Linked DNA regions of Homo sapiens. The protein of the gene in region 1 purifies or fractionates together with the protein of each later gene. This does not show direct contact. Each region holds a gene or a part of one and is shown on either strand. Other genes may lie near its edges.

Evidence for each region. The genes of interacting proteins can lie anywhere in the genome.
Region 2: the proteins of RPS6KC1 (region 1) and CA10 purify together in Homo sapiens (co-immunoprecipitation; one large-scale study listed by IntAct). This does not show direct contact.

What each region holds. Positions count from the first base shown.
Region 1 is NC_000001.11:213,049,918-213,054,040, forward strand, and holds the start of RPS6KC1 (ribosomal protein S6 kinase delta-1), read left to right. Parts: upstream 1-1,323; 5' UTR 1,324-1,487; coding exon 1,488-1,592; intron 1,593-4,123. UniProt on the Homo sapiens protein: May be involved in transmitting sphingosine-1 phosphate (SPP)-mediated signaling into the cell. Plays a role in the recruitment of PRDX3 to early endosomes.
Region 2 is NC_000017.11:51,742,715-51,746,214, reverse strand, and holds part of CA10 (carbonic anhydrase-related protein 10 precursor), read left to right. Parts: intron 1-3,500. UniProt on the Homo sapiens protein: Does not have a catalytic activity.

The sequences.
Region 1 (4,123 bases):
AAACGACTCTTTTGCCTCAGCCTCCCAAGTAGCTGGGATTGCAGGCGCCTGCCACCACGCCTGGCTAATTTTTTGTATTTTTAGTAGAGACGGGGTTTCACCATGTTGGCCAGGCTGGTCTCGAACTCCTGACCTGAGGTAATCCGCCCGCCTCGGCCTCCCAAAGTGTTGGGATTACAGGCGTGAGCCACCGCGCCCGGTCGGAGAACAGGGACTATCTTTGTAACTCCAATGCCAAATTGGCATCATGTCTGGCACATAGTAGGTGGTGAATTCAGGTTTAATGAATGACTAATAGACTTAGATATATGTAGGTTGAAAAGAAGGAGCCAGTGGTGAGAAAGAGATTAAACATACAGAAAGGAGATTTGGAATGTCATTGAAACAGTGTCTTAAGGTTTGCCAAAGAGGATGGGATTCAGATCACATGTGGAGTCATTAGCTGTAAAAATGAGCAAGTGATATGTGTACGTTTCAGACTGGCATGGAAATGTGAGAAGACAAAGGAATTGGTACTAAGGGCCATAGCTGCTTCTTCCTCTTCTTTTTTCCCTGTAAAGAAGAGTGGTGGTGCGGAGAGTAGGGAGGCAAAAGGAAGAGGAACAGAGTCTTTAGGATAATGGCAAAGACTTGGCATGAATATTTTGTGGAATGAAAAGGAACCTTGATCACAAAAAGATAAAGGAACTGCCAAGCGTTGATAACAACCTCAGCTGAAATTGGAAACTGTAGTGAGTGACTCGGAGAGGTCGAGTGACATATTTCTTTCTTCTAGCCAGAGGCGGACTCCAGATTTTCGAACCTGTGGGGATTTTTAAAAGATTGATATTGGCTTGGGAGCTTTTTTGGGTTGGGGGCTTGCTGTGCAGATGTGTTACAGAAAGGCGCTCAATGGAAGGAAATTCGTCTTAGAAAGAAGTAAGGGATATGTCTCAGAGAATGAGATGTTGCTGTGGGTATTTAAAATGATAGGCTGTGAATAGGTAAGGAAAGAAGGTGCTAGGCTATGGTATCTCTCCATCCCTTCAACACTCCACTTAAGTTTGTACCACGGCGGGGCGGAGGCAGGGAGGACCACGCTCTCCCGGTGTGGCGTGGCTATACCAACTCTCATAAAATCTCATAAAAGGTGACGGAGCTAGCGTACAAGAGGTCGTCTTTAGTGGAGAGGCCTGAGGTCTCCGCAGTGACGGGGGTGGCAGCGCGACCCCTTAGTCTTCAACTACAGGCCAGTCCCAGGTGCCCCAAAGGGGCTAGAATCTAAGGAGGAGTCTCCCCTCCCCCTAGAAGCGGGAGATAGCCTGGCCCGGAAGCTTCTCTGCTGACCCGGAAGCAGAGCTGTGCAGCTGAGGCGCCGCCGTGGAGCCGCCTTGGAGCCACCGCCCCCTCGCCGCTTCGCCGCTGCGTTGGGGAACCTGGACCGCGGCGGCGCCGGGTTTCCCTCATGATCCCGGGCGGGTGGCGGCGGCGGCAGAGGCGGCGGGAGGATGACCTCTTACCGGGAGCGGAGTGCCGACCTGGCCCGTTTCTACACTGTCACCGAGCCCCAGCGACACCCGAGGGGCTACACAGTATATAAGGTCACCGCCCGGGTGAGTGCCGGTGTCGGGCTGGGGTAGAGCTTGGATTGGGACCTGAGGATCTGGGGTGGGGACCCTGATGTGAGGGTACCTGACTCTGGCTCAGAGCCGAGGGTGGGACTGGGTGCTGCTCCTACTGGCGGGACTTGGGTGTCGGAGGTTGGGATTTTTAGAGTAGTGGCTGAGTGTGATATGCCCAGGGCTTCACTGTAGTAGGTCGTGGTAGAGTCCTCTTTCTGGGGGTGGGGCAGTCAGTGGTTGATGGTTTTAAATTGATGACTCAGTTCCCATCCCGTTTGGACTTTCTCTTCTGAGTTCGCAATTTGCAGAAGTGGTTTTGCTTGCTCCAGGAAGATAATGCAGATTAAAAAGTGTTAATTTATGTATTGTTTGGCTTATGTAATATAAGTTGTTTTTTCTCTTGACCTTTATCAGGTTTGCTGTGAGAAAGACAGATTCTTGGGACAGATGTCAGTGTTAGGCCACCAACCTAGGAACTGTGGATCCGGGCTTTGTCAAACCTTTGAGTTTTTCATGTTTTTCAGTAGGAGACGTGAAAAAAATCTGCTGAGGGTGGCTTGTGTGAGCTACCATGAGGGCACATTTTAAAGTTGGGAGGCTCCTTTACATCAACTAACTGGTCCAATTTTTAGTACCCACTTTATGTTTCATTGCTTTTGCCTTGAGTTTTAAAGAGAGTCTGCATCTTCTAGGAAAGTAAGAATAAATCAAAATTAAATAAGTATATATGTATGTGACGTATGTGTGCATGAATATATGTGTATAGTAGGCATTTTATGCACATCACCCAATTTAATTCTCATTTTAATGAGGAAGAAATAGATTAAAGCAAGTTTAGTAACTTGCCCAACTTTACATTGCAAGGCAGTAGCAGATCTGTCTGGGATCTGAAACCAGTTTTGCCTAACTCCAAGTTATATAAAATGTTAATAATTAACTTTATCAATTTTTAAAGAAGAGAGGTACAGATTAAGTAACAGTAGTTCAATATACATTTGGAGGATGTAAAGCAGGCCTTCAGAATAATTTTTTTTTTTTTGAGACGGAGTTTCGCTCTTGTTGCCCAGGCTGGAGTGCAATGGCATGATCTCTGCTCACCGCAACCTCTGCCTCCTGAGTTCAAGCGATTCTCCTACCTCAGCCTCCCGAGTAGCTGGGATTACAGGCATGTGCTACCATGCCCTGATAATTTTTTGTATTTTTAGTAGAGATGGGGTTTCTGCATGTTGCTCAGGCTCATTTCGAAGTCCTGACCTCAGTTGATCCGCCTGCCTCGGCCTCCCAAAGTGCTGGGATTACAGGCATGAGCCACCACACCCAGCCTGAGAAGAATCTTAAAGGTTAAATAGATCAGTTTGGGGCATGGGAGTGGCACGTGATGTATGGAAATGGTGCACAATTCAGATAAATGTGAGAAGGAGGGATAGATGAACATGTCTGTATAAAGATAATGAGAAGACCTGACCTGCTATTGCCGATTGCTGTTCGGAGAATAGAGGGATGTTTGTTGCTCCCTGCTTGCACTTAAGGTTGTTACATGGGTGGAATGTTAGTTTCAGGTTGTGTAAGAAATTTTGTGAGAGTGAGGGGCCCTTATTATACCACTCTTGAAACCTTTCTAGTCATTGGGCCCTTTGAAAATCTAGGCTTAGTTTCCTAACACATAGTGTATGGAATCAGAACAGTTTTCAACATACGTAATGTTTCTCTCACAGCATCCTACTTATCCGTTAATTTAACAGGAAAGTTATATTGTATTAATTTAGTTGCATGTCTGTGTCTCTTAGTGGATTTAGAGCAGTTCTCTATCATTGGCATTTGTTTCTGCTTATATCAAATAATAGATAAAAGAACATGCATGTGCATGGCACACAGTGCCTGAAAAACATTGTTGAATGTTTTCCTCTTCATTGTACGGAGCACACCCAATAAATGTTTAGATCCAGGCACTAAATACTGAGGGACATAAGGCTGAATAAAGCAGGGATCTTTATTCCTTTCAAGGATACTCATAGTAGAAGAGAGTTTAGTATACTTAAGTGTGATATAACACAGGAAGTTCCAGCAGACACTACAGAAAAGGGCTGTGGGAAGACAGATTGCTTCTGGATCAAGAGATTGGGGAATATGTACCAATCAAGATAGTTGAAAGAGGGGAAGAATCCAGAAAAGGAGAGGGTATGAAAAGGTAGACAGTTGAAGGGGTAGAGTCCATAAAGACCTGGAGGTATGAATGTGTGTGGAACTGGAATTGGAAGCACTGAGTATAATTATTTGTATTGTTACTTTACAAAAGGAAAGGTTAACCAAATTCAGAATTTTTTTTTTTTTTTTCCAAGGCGTAGTCTCGCTCTCTTGCCCAGGCTGGAGTGCAGTGGCGCTATCTCAGCTTACAGTAACCTCGCCTCCTGGGTTCAAGTGATTCTCCTGTCTCAGCCACTCAAGTAGCTGGGATTACAGGCGCCCTCCACCATACCCGGCTAATTTGTCTATTTTTTGTAGAGACGAGGTTTCGCCTTGTT
Region 2 (3,500 bases), on another chromosome or scaffold:
AGTGTGTGCTAGAGAAGCTGCATGATTTCATCTAGCATTTTATCTGTGATCTGTTAATCATGACTCTATAAACAATAGGGTTGAGCTGTAGTATGGGTCTCCCTCCTGGATCTGTAGGGAAAAAAAATACTAGGATTGATTAGGGATGTCTGCCAAAGGCATTGTAATGCCAGGCTCCCAAGTTGCAGATTCTGAACTAGAGTACAACAAGAAATGTAATGAAAGCAGGACAGAAAGTCACAATTTGAGCATAACTGGGTACTGCCGGTCTGAATTAGAGAATATTCAAAATTAGATGAATTCTTCCTCTTAAGTTATTTTAAGGTTTGTAATTATTTTATCTGTTGACTTACTTGCTCATTTTTTTGTTTGCTGTTATTTCTTTTTCTCCCCCATATTCTGTCATATTCCAGCACCTATCACAACACTGCTTCAGAGTAGAAATATTTGTTAAATGAATAATTGATAAAATGTAGATGTTTACTAGGCTAAAATCTTTACATTGTATTATTCTTTAGTGACACTTGTTTCTTCAGTATATGATAAGGGTGCTTTGTAACTTATACGTGAACCACAATTTTAGAGTAAATGAGTGCTTCCAAAATCCTTAAGGGAAACATATAGTAATTTGATCTCTTAGTGTATGAATTTTCCTAGACCTACACCAGACCACAGGTATCAGGTGCACCAAAGAATTTGCATTTTAAAAGTTCCCAGGAGAGTCTGACGATTAGGTTTGTGAAGCACTTCCACAATGGTACATTATTATGTGTTCCCAGTGAAGAAAGCAATGAGTGAAGAAAGCATGTAAGCAGGGTTGCAAATCACAATGAACTGGGAAGCCTTGTCAAAATATTTTCCTCTCAGTCCTTCCCAAAACCAACTGAATCAGTCTCAGGATATAGGATCCAGGTTTGTACATTTGTAAAACTTTCCCCAAGAGATTTTGGTTAGCGACCACTGTGACAATTTTAGGTGAAACTCCGCCTGAATTATCCCAGTTTTCTAAACAAAGGGGACTTAATCAACAAAATCACACTGCTAAAAAGGGGGGAAGGCACACACATTGGTAATTGTCCCCTGGAAATGGCAAGGCTGGGATGCTATCTAGACTAATGAGACTTGGAGAACAGCTTCCCAAGTAGGGTGGTCACACACACACATCCACTGCTCCAATGTAGGCTTGAGCACTGGCCTCAGCATAGGTATAATCTACCTTGCCCTGGGTAGATGCAGTCATCGTATCACATTTCTTTCCAAGCCTCTCAATGTCAGGGGTCTATAGACGAACTGGTATGGGTTTAGGTGCAAGAGACCAGAATTTCAGAGTCCCCGAAACAATGCTATATGCAAAGTAGTGCGATAAGCAGTTGACTTTTGAGATCCCATTTACGGATTTCAGCAAGCAAGAAGAGTTTGGCATCTTCTGTGTAGCATAAGGGAAGACACCTATGGCCAATGGGTGGTAGCTACAAAAAGATGGAATTCAGCTGCATATGTGTTCTAACGATGAAAACGATACAGTGATGAAATGAGTTTGCCTCTGAAAATTGTGACTTCATATTACTGGAATTATTTTATTTATTTATTTATTTATTTAGAGAGAAAGGGTCTTACTCTGTTACCCAGGCTGAAGTACAGTGGTAGCACCATCACAGTTCACTGTAACCTCTAACTCCTGGGCTCAATCAATTCTTTTGTCTTGGCCCCCCCACAAAGTGCTAGGATTATAGGTGTGATCCACTGCACTCAGCCCCATTACTGGAGTTATTAAGCACTGAACAGAATTTGGTGACTCCATAAAGGTGACTCACATTCGAATGAGCAGGGGAAACTGTCAGTTTTAATGTATCTTCTGATGCTGAAATTCTATACAATCCATAATTTTTTTTTTTTTTTTGAGATGGAGTCTCGCTGTGTCACCCAGGCTGAAGTGCAGTGCCATGATCTCGGTTCACTGCAACCTCCACCTCCTGGGTTCAAGCGATTCTCCTACCTCAGCCTCTCTAGTAGCTGGGATTACAGGTGTGCACCACCACACCTGGCTAATTTTTTTCAGTACAGGTGAGGTTTCACTATGTTGGCCAGGCTGGTCTTGAATTCCTGACCTCAAGTGATCTGCCCACCTCGGCCTCCCGAAGTGCTGAGATTACAGGCGTGAGCCACTGCACCAATCCATGATTTTCTTATAGAAATTTCCTTCAATTGTATTCTACTGAGGATTAGCCTCAGTAAAAGTCAACATATCTCACCCTGAAGGTTAACTTTTTAAAAAATGAATTTCAACTTTTATTATAGATTAAAGTGTACACATGCAGGTTTGTTATGTGGGTAGATTGCGCGAATCTGGTTAACTTAATTTTTATTTTGTGCTACCTTCAAAGCCACCTTTGGCCTCTATTTTTGGCTATCCTTTGAGAGGACCCAAGTAGACACTTCTAGCAAGAAAGCATGTGTTTATTTTGTTGACAGTGAATGATCACATTGCCATCTGCCCTATCTATCACTGCTGATCGTGATAAGTCAATTAATGCCAGGCATTTTCCTTGGCACAGTGCAACAGTCGTTATCTGAAGAGCTATAGATTAATTGCAGTCTTGTCTAGTGAGGTTATTGTAATTGATGGTAATCATTTGCTTTGTTTTATAAAGCTGCATGGATGTATGACATAGTCAGCAACTGCATTTTTATAAAAATTACTCATGTCCTACACAGAGAACTCCTGGATTCCTTGTTGGGGATTGGTGATAAATGAGCACATTCAGGGATTCAAATGTCTCCATTTCTTTAAGAAGGAAAAATGAACTGTTTTTAATAAGTAAGACCCTTAGCTTGCTAATCATGTCTAAATGGTTAGATTAATGTCCAGTATAAAGTAGGATATTTATGAAAAGAAGAAAATACATTAGCCAGGGAAAAAATAATATTTGAAAAGAAACATGCCTTAGATTCCATTGCAGTAGTGGGGGCTGGACAAGAAGAATCTTCCTGATTTGGGATACATTAGACAAGTTCATTTAAAAATCCTTCCTTAAGTTCTTCTTTTCAAGGGGGCAGAAGGGTACACGGAGAATTGTACCAGCCACTTCATGCAAGATCTATAGCCAGTTCCTCCTGTTAATTTCATCCACTCTTCACATGCTCTTGTGCTTCTGCCATGTGGTGGGCTCCGAGCTAGGCATGGGCCAGAGTGCAGCTTCTGCCCACAGATGTGTAAAGTCTATTGAGGGATGTATATTGATAATACCACATAATGTGGATTATATTTGAAGCTTATTCCAGAAGGGGATTATGAAATAGCTCTCACTAGATAGCATTAAGCAAAGAATGGGTGAGCAGCTGTGCAACCTGACCCACTTGCTGCTCCCTCTGACAGCAAGATAGAAACACCTTGACCTTGCTAGCTCTCAGCCTCTGGAATCTCTGATCCTGCTCAAAACACATCTGAGAGAGGGAAAAGTCCATAGCTGTTGCTATGGTGATATAGATAGGATGTGTTT